2 separate regions of the Homo sapiens genome follow, and region 1 is linked to region 2. A link means that fine-mapping ties the variant in region 2 to the expression of a gene that starts in the linked region. Tissue or cell type: skeletal muscle. Region 2 holds a variant in brackets; the other region holds the start of a gene. All regions are shown on one strand. Distances are between the middles of the regions. Region 1 holds the start of LINC03062 (long intergenic non-protein coding RNA 3062). Region 2 has its middle 11 kb from the start of GADD45G.

Region 1 (5,367 bases), 24 kb after region 2:
AAGCCTCGCAGGACTCTTCTCTGTGGCCAGGCCCATCATCTGCACCAGAAGTCCATCTCCGCATGCATCCTGTCCCTGGCCTGTCACTGCCTCAAGTCTTTTTCAGTTATCTCAGTAGAGGTGGTTTGAACTGGGTTCAAATTGATCTTCCACAAAGCTGGAAGCTTCACCAGGGGCTGGGGGTCAGGACTCAGATCCCAGACAAGTTTAACAACAGATACCTGTGTTTCAAACCTGTCTTCTGCTGGGCCCACAGCTTCCAGTTTTCCAAGCACCCCACCCCTCCCTATTGTCCACATAGGCTTCATGCCTTTGGGCCCAGCCAGTGAAGGTGTTAGGACGTGCCATCCTCTAAATCTGAACTAGGTGGGCATCATGAATCCAAGTCAGTCCAGAACCATGGCCCATGGACGGGCAGGTACCAGGGGGGCTCTGGGGTGTGGGATAAGCAGCCTTGTCCATACAAGCGTGTGCACCAGGTGGGGCTTCCCTTTGTGTCTCTTCCTGTGGGCTGTGCCTCACTGGCCGAGCTCTGTGTGTGGAAATCCAGCCTCAGGTGACTCACCCACCCCCTCAGAGGGCCTGGAGCTCTGTGATCAAGACCTGCTCCTCTGCTCCGCTTCCCACCTCCCTGTCTGCCACTCAGCTCCCCAGGACCTCTGGGCAGGGTCCCCCTGAGACCCGGCATCCACTCTGGACACCACTGGGCTTGCTGACTCTTCACAGCCTTGTTCCAGACTGCATCTCTGCAGGACTTACTTCTGTATGGTGTCCTGGTGATCCAGCACTCCCTGCTCTGCTAAAATGCAGACTCCAGGGGCAGGCTCTTGTTTTGTCCTGGAAGAATTCTTGCACTGTAGGAGTGAATTCAACACAAGTCACAGCCAGCTTGCTCCATCTTAAAGGCGAGGAGCCCCAGCCCCAAGTCCTGAGCTCTTGCCAACCTGTTCGAGACCACACATTGACCCTGGAAGAGGAGGAGCAGGTAGGCTGGGATGTGCCCAGGGACTTTCTGAAGCCTCAATCATCCCAGTTATGACCTCCCCCTGCCCCTCCTTGCAGCATCCCTCTTCATTCCTCGTGGAGAAGTGTGGGCTCCATAGAATGAACTGGCAAGTGTGCACTGTGTGGATGGCTCTGAGCAGCTGCCACCACCTGGGGTAGCATGGGCAAGGCAGACGACACAGAGTCTCCAGCCAGACCCCTATTACCAGCTGCCTGGCCTGGGACTAGCTATGTCACGTCTCCCTGCCTCAGTTTCTTCATCTGCACAGCGAGGATAATAACAGTGCTTACCTCTTAGGATTACCATGAGGCTCAAAGAAGGAAATGCAGAGAAAGTGCTTAGGACAGTGCTGGCCTTGTAGGAAAGACTCACAAATATTCATTGTTTCGTTGATGAGAGCAAGAAGTGCGCTTGTTACATATTCACCCAATAGTGTGGGGTGGAGGAATGAGGTACAGGTGGATACCCTCTTGGAGGACCTGCTAGCGTCTTACTTCCTCTGTACATGGATGGCAACACAGAGGCAGAAGTCTCAAGTTAACTTCTTTTTCGTTTCAAAGCATCTCATGACATTTAATACCCCTGCACTCATACTCGCCCGGAAGTGTGAGCTTGGTTCATCACTAATGGATATTTTCAGCCCTGCTGAGGAATCTGGGCCTGCTCCTTGCCTCCCTCACCTTCCTCTGCAGCCCATGTGAATTAGCCTGCTTGCCTGCTCAGGGACTGGTCCCCGCAGTGTGGCTCCTGGGGCCCCAGCTTCACTCCTTCAAGGGCCAGGATGTTGAAGAAGGGGGAAAGGGACCCCTACACTAGCCTGCCTTGTGTGGCCCAAAGACCCTTGCCAAGATCAGGTGGGGGTCAAAGTGCAGGAAAAGAAGGATGTCGATTTCAGAAGAAACTGTTGTGGGAATGGCAGGATGGCTCCAGCGTCAGCGTGCCTTCCTGCAGCTACCCCGGGGCCGCACGCCAGCAGCTCTTGGCAGCAGTCACACGGCTCTCGCATCCAACCTCTGCCACAGGGGAGCAGGCCTCACTTCCCCCAGCTTTGCTTCTCTGCCCTGCAGGGCTCCTTTCCTGTCCCAGGGAGCTCTACTTTCCAAGCAGTTCCATGGCCAACAGCTGGAGTCTTATTTTAGGGACGAGCTGGCAGCCCAGCATTTGTACTGAATGTTCCGGGTCGGCCTGGCCCGCGCCTGGTGCACCAGTGGGAACCCCATAAGTCTGGGCTTGGGGGAGTGAATTACTTCTGAGGTTTGCTGACATTCTGTTTGGCTGCCTGAAATGCTTTCTCTTCATTCAAAGAGCAGCTGCTGGTCTCCGCCCCTCTGTCTTTCCTTTCTCCTCCCGGTGGCTTCCCTGTTCCTGTCCCTGGCTTTCCTGGCTTTTTGGATCCCCATCCTGGCTCTGGGGGGAAGGAGGATGGGTCTGGAGCACCTGTGAGACCCGAGCCTGGGCCCACCACAGCAGAGGATGCAGCCTCCCAACCCCAAGAGTCCCAGATTGGAGTCCCTGAGAGAAGCTGGGGTAGGTGAAGTGGGCTCTCAGTCTGGGTGTTATCTTGGGAGGAGCGTGGGTCTCTGGGACACACTGGTAAGATGTGCTCCACTTGACCCTCATCATAACCAAGGGTCTGTTGGTGGGCTTTTGCCTTTGGTGGCCCCAGGGCCCCTGCCTTCTGGCTACTGCCATCCGTGGGGGATGAGTGACGTCAAACTTCCCCTTCTCCGGGCTGTTGGCTAGAGTGGGGGCAGTGGGAAAAACACATCTATCAGGCAGTCCCACCCCTGCACAAAGGAGCAGAGACTGTGCCTCAGCCCCACATCCCTGCCTGGTGGGTACCACATCACAGACAGACACGTTCTTAGCTGGCTGTGTGCAGTCACTGCCACCTTGGGCTCCTGGGAGGCACCAAAGGCCCATTGTGGGCCCCTGAAATGACGCACCCACCACAGTCAGCTGCCATCATGCAAGGCACCGAATCTGCTGTCCTGGTGGGATGGGATCTCACTTCTGCCTTTCCTGTTCAGCCTCCCCGGGCTCCATGCGCTCTGTGGAGGCCATGGCAGGATATGTTGTGGGCAGCTGGATTTCCGGCCCTCTCTGGTAGAGTCAGAGGGGTTGCCTTTGACCAGCAGGAAAGGGATTCGAAGGCGGACGCGAGTGGGCCCTGCCCAACTCAGACTGAGGAGGAAGTTTCTGCAGCGCCGGAAGGAGAAGCAATGAATAGCCACTGTCTAGACCCTCCCCTATGACTCCATCCCCAAGGTGCTCCAGACAGGCCTGAGATTCCCCTCTTCCTTCCTAGCCACACCACCCCTGGTGTGAGCCAGGCAGGCAGCCCAGCCCTCTCCAGCCCCGGCTCCTGGTGGCAGGAGGTGCCTTCCTGGCTGTAGCAGGAAGAGTCTCCAGGTTATATGGCCGTGTCCCTGTGCCAGGACTCGGGGTAGGGGTACACTCTGTTCTGACCCCCCCAGGAAGTGAGTTCCAAAGGAGTCGGGCCTTTGGAGGAGAACTTGGTGGCTGTGCTTTTGACCTGGCATTGCAGGAGCATAAGCCCTGGTCAACTTGAGCGAAAAAGCCGGACCCACTGTCACCATCTCACAGGCTGTGTCGCATGCTCTGGCGGTGAGGGCCTGTTTCCCAGCCCTCCCTAGCAGGAGACTGCTCAGGGCAGAGCTCCTGAGATACTATGGGTTCCTTTGGGGTGGAAGAGCCTGTGGCCAGGTCAGTGAGGAGAACAGAGTGGGAGCATGAGGGTGGGCTGGAGAGGAGCTGTTTGTCCCGCCTCCCGACCCCGAGGAGGGCATAGTCCACAGGCTATTTTAGGGAGCAAGAACTGGCCAGTCAGAATGTGCCTGCGCCTCTCCCCAAGACAACAGCACCATCAAAGGGGAACATCTTTGTCTTGGGGGAGCCATGTGGAATTGTACCTAGAACAGATTGTGAACAGGGGTGCCTGTCAATTTACATTTATCAGGACTCGTTTCTTTTCCCTCCCAGACTTGCCCTGCAAATCTCATGGTGGGGTGGGGATCAAGGAGAAGAGGGCTTATCTTGACTTTCATGATCTTAGTGTTAATGACAGTTACCCAGGATGGAGGTTTTTAGCCCCTTTCTTGGCCCTAGACCCAATGACCCCTTCCATGATATTTTTCAAAGTCCAGTGAAGCAGTGGAGAGAGGAGTGAGGGGGAGGAGAAGAGAGAGACGGGACTCTGTTGGCAGACGCCCTGCTGTCTTCCAAGACCCTATATAGGCTTCTGTGGAGTTCTTGCAGCTGAAAGCTGAGTCCTTTGCCTGGGGCAGGGGTGGTGTGGATTCTTGGCCATCACACTCCTGGAACCCTGAATCTTACTGTTCCACAGTCACAGACCAGCCAGGCTCAGGACCTCAGAGCTGCTTGTGGGCCCATGGAAAGTCATACTTGCTTCCCGTCGGCGCTGGGCCTGCTGTCATTTTGCAGCTTCTGCCCTGCAAATTTAGAGTTTTAGAGTTTAGTTTTAGAGTTTTAAGTCTCTAAAACCCTCACAGTTAATTTTTTCTCTTCCTTTAATGACACCCAAAAGGGCACCCAGCATTATGCCTCGGGTGTTTGACCCGGCTGGATATGGGATGGAGAGCGTTTGGTGGGTCCTGGGAGGAGCTCAGGCCAGGTCAGGATTTACCATTGTTATTGATGCTACAGATAACAGCCTTGCCCTGAAGGCTTTCACAGAGTTTATCTCCTTTCTTGTTACTCTGATAGGGCTGGGATTGTCCACCACCTGCTCAATGAGGGCTAACATTGAGTACCCAGCGAGAGTGCTGTATTAAATCTTATCTTGGCCAGGCACTATGGCTCATGCTTGTAATTCCAGCATTTTGGGAAGCTGAGGTGGGAGGCTTACATGACCTCAGTTTAAGACCAGCCTGGGCAACATAGTGGGACCCTGCCTCTACCAAAAAAAAAAAAAAAAATTAGCCAGGCATGGTGGCACATGGCACATGCCTGTAGTTCACCTACTCAAAATGCTGCGATGGGAGAATCATTTGAGCCACAAGAAGCCGAGACTGCCATGACCCATGATTGTGCTACCATACTCCAGCCTAGGCGATAGAGTAAGACTCTGTCTCCAGACAAAAAACAAAATCTCCTGCTTGGTGGAGACCTCTCAGAGTGCTGGGGAAGGGGCTCCGGAGTCCATAGGCTCTATTCTCCTCTCCCTTCCCTCACTTCCTGGCTGTGTGAGTTTAGCTATATAAAATTATCTCAGGGTTAGTTTTAGAAGCCAAGATTTGCATGTTAGGCCCTAAAAAAGATTGCATTTTCAAAAGGCAGTCACATCAACCTACAAACTCTCTCATCAGCTTTTCTTGTAG
Region 2 (5,367 bases):
CTGGGCCCTACCAGAGCTGGGTTCCACCTTAGCATTTAAGGAGGTGGCCTATACAGAGCAGGTGGCAGTGTCGGGACAGGGGGCTCCTTCCAAGGTCACCATGGGATTGGTGGGCAGGCCTGTGCCTGTGGTCCAGTCTCTGGCTCTGATTGGAGCACGCTCATTCCTACAGAACATTGGCAACCCTCTATCGCTCACCTGCAGCTGGGGATTAAAAGACCCAAGGGCCACTGACTGGGCCACTGAATCACTGATTTTCATCCCCAAATCTTTTCCCTTATATGAAATTTCCCAAGTGCTGTCAAATCACAGATTCTTAGTGTTGGAGGGAAGCTTAGTTATTCTTCATTTCACAGGCAAAGAAATGGGCTCAGAGAGGTGAGTCCATAGTTGCAGTGAGGTCCAGGTCTCCTCATCAGGTCTGGGCTTTGTTGACCCAGGGCCTTTTGGTCCAAAGTTGAAACAAAGGCCTTTTAGCATCCCCTCTGGGCTGCTATCCGATGCCTAGATGATGGGCCAAACACAAGCAGGATAGCTATGGAATTCACGGTTCTCCAGAGAAGGAAGCAGATGGGAAAGTGAGACCTGCCTCGCCTAATTTTCTTGTACTACAGTCTTTTGGTTAAAGCATCTCTCATTTTGTTATTGTTGCTTGTGGCTTCCCATTATGAGGAGTTGACGCGTTTGTCTGTCTGTCTAGCCTCTGGATGTGGGACAGGCAGATCAATGAGATCCAGGAAAAGTTTGTGTCTTGCTGTGTGAAAGCTGAGGCTGACCGAACAAAGTCACTCAGTTATGGGAACACTTGTTAAAAGGATGTCAAAGCTTTTATTTTCCCCCCTCAAAGTGGGTCTCTTGTCCTATAACCACTGACCATCTTGATCTCATACCGAGCCATTGATGTGGTTTTACTTCACCTCCAGGGGAGGTGGGATTTGCTACTGAGTTTCATGATTCATTTTTCAGCTTTCAGAGTTTGCTTTGGTTTGAGGTTTACATGCCTGTCAGTGATGAAACATGGTCATTAGAATTGATTCCGATTTTTGACACTTGCGTTATCCCTACCCTGCAATGGTGGATTGGGGTCACTCATTTACAGCCTATCTTCTGCAAGTGGGAAAATTCAAGAGAATAATTAAAATGTGTTGCGTTTTCACTATGACAAAGTTCAGACAAATAGAATTCTAAGGAACAACAGTGAAACAACAGTAAAAAGCAAAATTGAAAGGAAAGGAACAGCTACACTCTGGAGAAAGTATCCTCTTTTGCAGCAAGATTAAATTTCCCTAGAGTGATTCACGGCAGCAAAGCAATTCATGGAACTCCCGCGTTGAGCAAGAATTTGATGCTAACATTCCAGGAAGGAGGCTGCAACTGCAGGTTAGGCTCAGCTATCATAAGACCAGTTAAAACCATGGTGTCTTGACATGTCTGCAAATCACTCAAGCCCTGCAAGGCCGAAACAATGACCAAGATAAAGTCCAGGGAGTTGGTAGGTGGCCCACATGTCACCAAATGATCCACTTGGGCTGACTGAGGGTTTGAGGTCCTGCCAGGCTGTGTGGATGCCCACAGTCCCCATGCAGGGGAGGGTGAGTGAGTTTCTGCTTTCACCGTCATGAGCAGGGGCAAGCAGCTGTTCTCCTTCTATGTGGCCCCTAGGCCCCTGGGTATGCTCAGTCTCTCCAAGAGCTTGGAGAAGACTCAGGAGAAACAACTGCCCACCCAGAGGGGCTGCAGGAGCTGGGGGTCCCTCGGCGGCAGCATTCTCTGCTGGGGAAGGAGCTTAGCCATCTGGAGCTGCCTGTCCATGCTGGGTTCCCTGGCCTTGATCTTGATTATGTTGATAGAGAAGCAGACCACCCCACAACTGGGAAGCCCATTCCAAGGCAAATGGGCCATTCCACTTTCAGAGCTCCCCAAGGGGGCCCCGGCAGCTAAAGTGAGGCCTGAGCAGAACTTGCTGGCTTCCTCTGGTCACCAGACTCCTGCAGTGCCCATATGAGGTCAACAGTGTGGCATGAGGCCCAAATGATATCAGGTAGGGGTTACAGGGATTAAACTAGGAGCCCAGGGGTACACCCCCAGCTGCGTCCTCCAAGGGACTATCATCATAGGCACTTCTCAGTGGTCACTGCAGGCTCAGAGGACAGCTGCTGAAGCCCACTAGATGAGGCCATGTGCCATAGTCTGAATATGTCCTCTAAAATATATGTGTTGGAAATATAATCCCCAGTGTAATGGTGTTGGGAGGTGGGCCTAATGGGAAGAGTTTAGGGCATGAGGGCTCTGCCCTGGTGAAAGGATTAGTGCCCTATAAAAGAGCTTGATGGAGGGAGTTTGGTTCTTTTTCATCCCTCTATTCCTCTTGCCATGTGAGGATGCAGTGTTCCTGGCCCCAGAAAATGCAGCAAAGAGGTGCCATTTTGGAAGCAGAGAGCAGCCCTCACCAGACATTGAACCTGCTGGTGCCCTGATCTTGGATTTCCAGCCTCCAGAACTTCCAAAAAAATTTCTATTTTTTTAAATAAATTACCCAGTCTCAGGTATTTGGTTATATCAGAACAAACAGATGTACACACTGTGCTTAGTGTTTAGGGGCTTGAGTGTCCTGGGGGACAGGCCAGGTGGGGGTGATGGACTGGGGCAGAGCTTTAAAAGTGAAGCAGAACTCAGGCAGGTGGAGCTC[T/A]TGCACAGAATTGAGGACAGTCACTGCCCTGGGGACATCTTCTAGGTTTGCTCCCGGTCACCCCCTCAGTCCTGTCCTAAGGCTGGGTCTGCAGGGAGCCCACGCTTGGAGAGCAGATGCTGGGCTTGCTTGTGTTGCCTTTGCTTTTCCCAGCTCAGGGGCCTGGGCTCACACTCTTGCAGTAGGAGAGATTCAAGGACCCAAGGGTACACTTTTTCTGTGGGTGAATGGAGAGGGAGAGAGGGAAGGTGTGTGTGTGTGTGGAAGGAGAGAGAGAGAGAGAGAAAGAGGTTCTCAGAGCCTAAGCAGGAGTAGGATGGCCCACGGTGGAGAGCATGGTAGCCCAGGGAGTGGGGTCTGTGTTAGATGTGGGCTGCCCGTGGGGGGAGGGTGGGCTTCTAACAGTCCCAATGTGTCTGAGACGCGTAGGGCCCTGGGGTGACCTGGCAGTATCTGTTGACCTGAAGGTCGGGACAGGAATTGCTCAGCTTCTTGAGGGAATTCGGCACTTCTCTCTGTGTCCCTCTGCATAACAAATCACCCCCACACACATATTGGGATGTTTCTCAGCTCCGGTGACCAGCTGGCCTGGGCTCGGCAATTCCCTTGCTCTACCTGAGGCTGCCCAAGGCTGCCTGGTGGTCATGTGGGAGCCGGACTGGCTGAGAGGCTCAGGAAGTGCCATGGAAGGCACAGGGTGGGGTTGTGAGGCTGGTCTTCGCCAGGAAGCTAGACATCCCTGCTGCTCCCTCCCCGTGGGGCCTGTCCACACGGTCTTGTCACGGGGTCTCTCTCCAGAGCGTCCTGCACAGGGATGTTCCACTCCCACTGCGTTTTGTGGGTGAGTGGGAGCCACTGGTCTGGGTTACCCAGGGGAGAAGACCACCTGAGAGCAGGGATCCTGGGAGGGTGGCCACGGGGCCATCTTTGGAGATTTGCTGTGACTCATTTTCCTGAATCAGGTGTGAGGCTCATTTAGCTTACATAACTCATTTCAAGGAGAAATTACTTCAAAGTACAAAATGTTATCGTCTATGCCATTGCAGTTTTGGGGAAGAGTTACTGCTCTTTGCTAGGAAAAGCCTTTAGAGGGTTTTTAGAGGCAATAGGAATTGCCGAGATGAATTCCAAGGCAGAGATACTCATGAATAAGGGTTAATTCAGCAACTTAGTGAGGGCACATTATCAGCCCCTGGACCCTCCACTGGCACCTGACGGTACCAGGCTCCGCACAAGAACACTGCTGCCTGCACACTGTGGTGTCTGCCTCCTCTTGTAACTGGGCCTGCACTCCCCACCTTCTTCTCAGAGCTGATGGGGACAAGGCTGTGTCTCGGCACATCCTCCACCCAGTCTCAGCTGCCTGCTTCCTGGGAAGTAAGCCCCCAGGGACTCGATTTCCCTGTGCCCCCACCCCATCAGATATTCTCCACTTCATCTGAAACATCTGGAAGGTGGGAACATCTGTTATACCATAGGGTGGGTAGACGTGTTGTGGAAGTTCTTTTTGCAAAGAGGAGCTTCTCAGCAGGGCCAGGGGACCCTCACTCACCTCCAGGGAGTAAATCAGCTGGGTGGGGTGGAGTGGGGGGTGGGCCTGGTGCCTGTGAGGAAGGGCTTTCAAATCAAGTCCAGGCTTCCCCTGTTAACTCACCACTCTTCCCTTATCTGTGGGAAAAATAACAATATCATTTCATGCTATGATTTAAGTTTCAATAATGAAAATATCAATTAATACACTGAGCTCTAAACTCTGGAATCTAGCATAGAGGTCCAATTTCCACTCATCATTCTCCAACATGTGTCCCTCTTCCCCCATGCCTTCTATGTGTCCTGTCTGCGCCCAGGACTGCGTGTCCCAGGAAGACATGCCATGGGCCCCTGCCTGCTGGCTTCTCATTGGATTTGGCCAATGAGAGGTGTTGGTGGGAGATGAGAGGGCTGTGGGGAGGGAGGTAGGGGTGTGTCTTCCCTCTCACTCCTGCTTTCGGCTGAGTCCCCAGGGGTGCCTTGCCCCTCTGCACTTTACCTCCTGCCAGGAACCCCTGCCCCACGGCTCTGCTGTGCGTATCTTCTGCCCTCAGCCCTCAGCCCAAGGCTGGTGACAGTCCCCCGGTCCCCAGGAATACATCAGCTCCATCCTCTTGGCTCTCTGAGCCACCACACATCTGAGAATGTGAACCTTCCTTTCTCTGTGGGAACTTGGGGCGACACCTCCTTCTGCTTGGCCCTGGCTGGTGTGCACGCAGGAGGACTTGAGTGGAACCATGACCCTGAACAGGTCAGGCATGGGGCTGGCTTGCTCTTGGCAGAGCACTTGGCTTCAGTCCCACATACCTGTCCCTGCCTCTCCCACATCACTGGACAAAGCTAGGCTTGGGGTTGTGCCTAATCAGAAAGCAAAGCAGCACAACCCCCAGGTGCCTGGAAGGAGGGAAGCAGGAAGTTTATGAGTGGTGCCAGGACCCACACTGAGGCCTGGCTGCCAGTGACATGGGTGCCTGCTCAGACTCCTTTTGGCAACAGGTGTGCCCATCCCTCAGCCCCTGAGAACGTGGCTGCTAACCAATTCCTGCCCCTCCTTCTCTGCAGAGTTGCACACAGGGAGCCGTGGGGGCTTTCCCTCTCCAGACCCCAGCCAAAGACCAGCGGGCAAAGGAGATGGGAAAGGCCAGCCT

What was found. PIP is the estimated chance that this variant, and not a neighbour inherited with it, causes the effect. A credible set is the group of variants that fine-mapping cannot tell apart.
Region 1: LINC03062 starts here. The variant in region 2 is the best candidate, but not a certain one, in a credible set for the expression of LINC03062 in skeletal muscle (GTEx, PIP 0.78).

Annotation. Positions count from the first base shown.
Region 1 is chr9:89,637,447-89,642,813 of GRCh38, forward strand. LINC03062 (long intergenic non-protein coding RNA 3062) reads left to right here and starts at 2,337. Exons shown (of 6, transcript NR_024280.1): 1 at 2,337-2,533. RefSeq lists an enhancer at 2,080-2,649.
Region 2 is chr9:89,613,143-89,618,509 of GRCh38, forward strand. No RefSeq gene overlaps it. Among named protein-coding and RNA genes, the nearest start is that of GADD45G, 11 kb to the left of the region's middle. RefSeq lists an enhancer at 1,283-1,824. The variant T/A (reference allele first, on the strand shown) is at 2,690.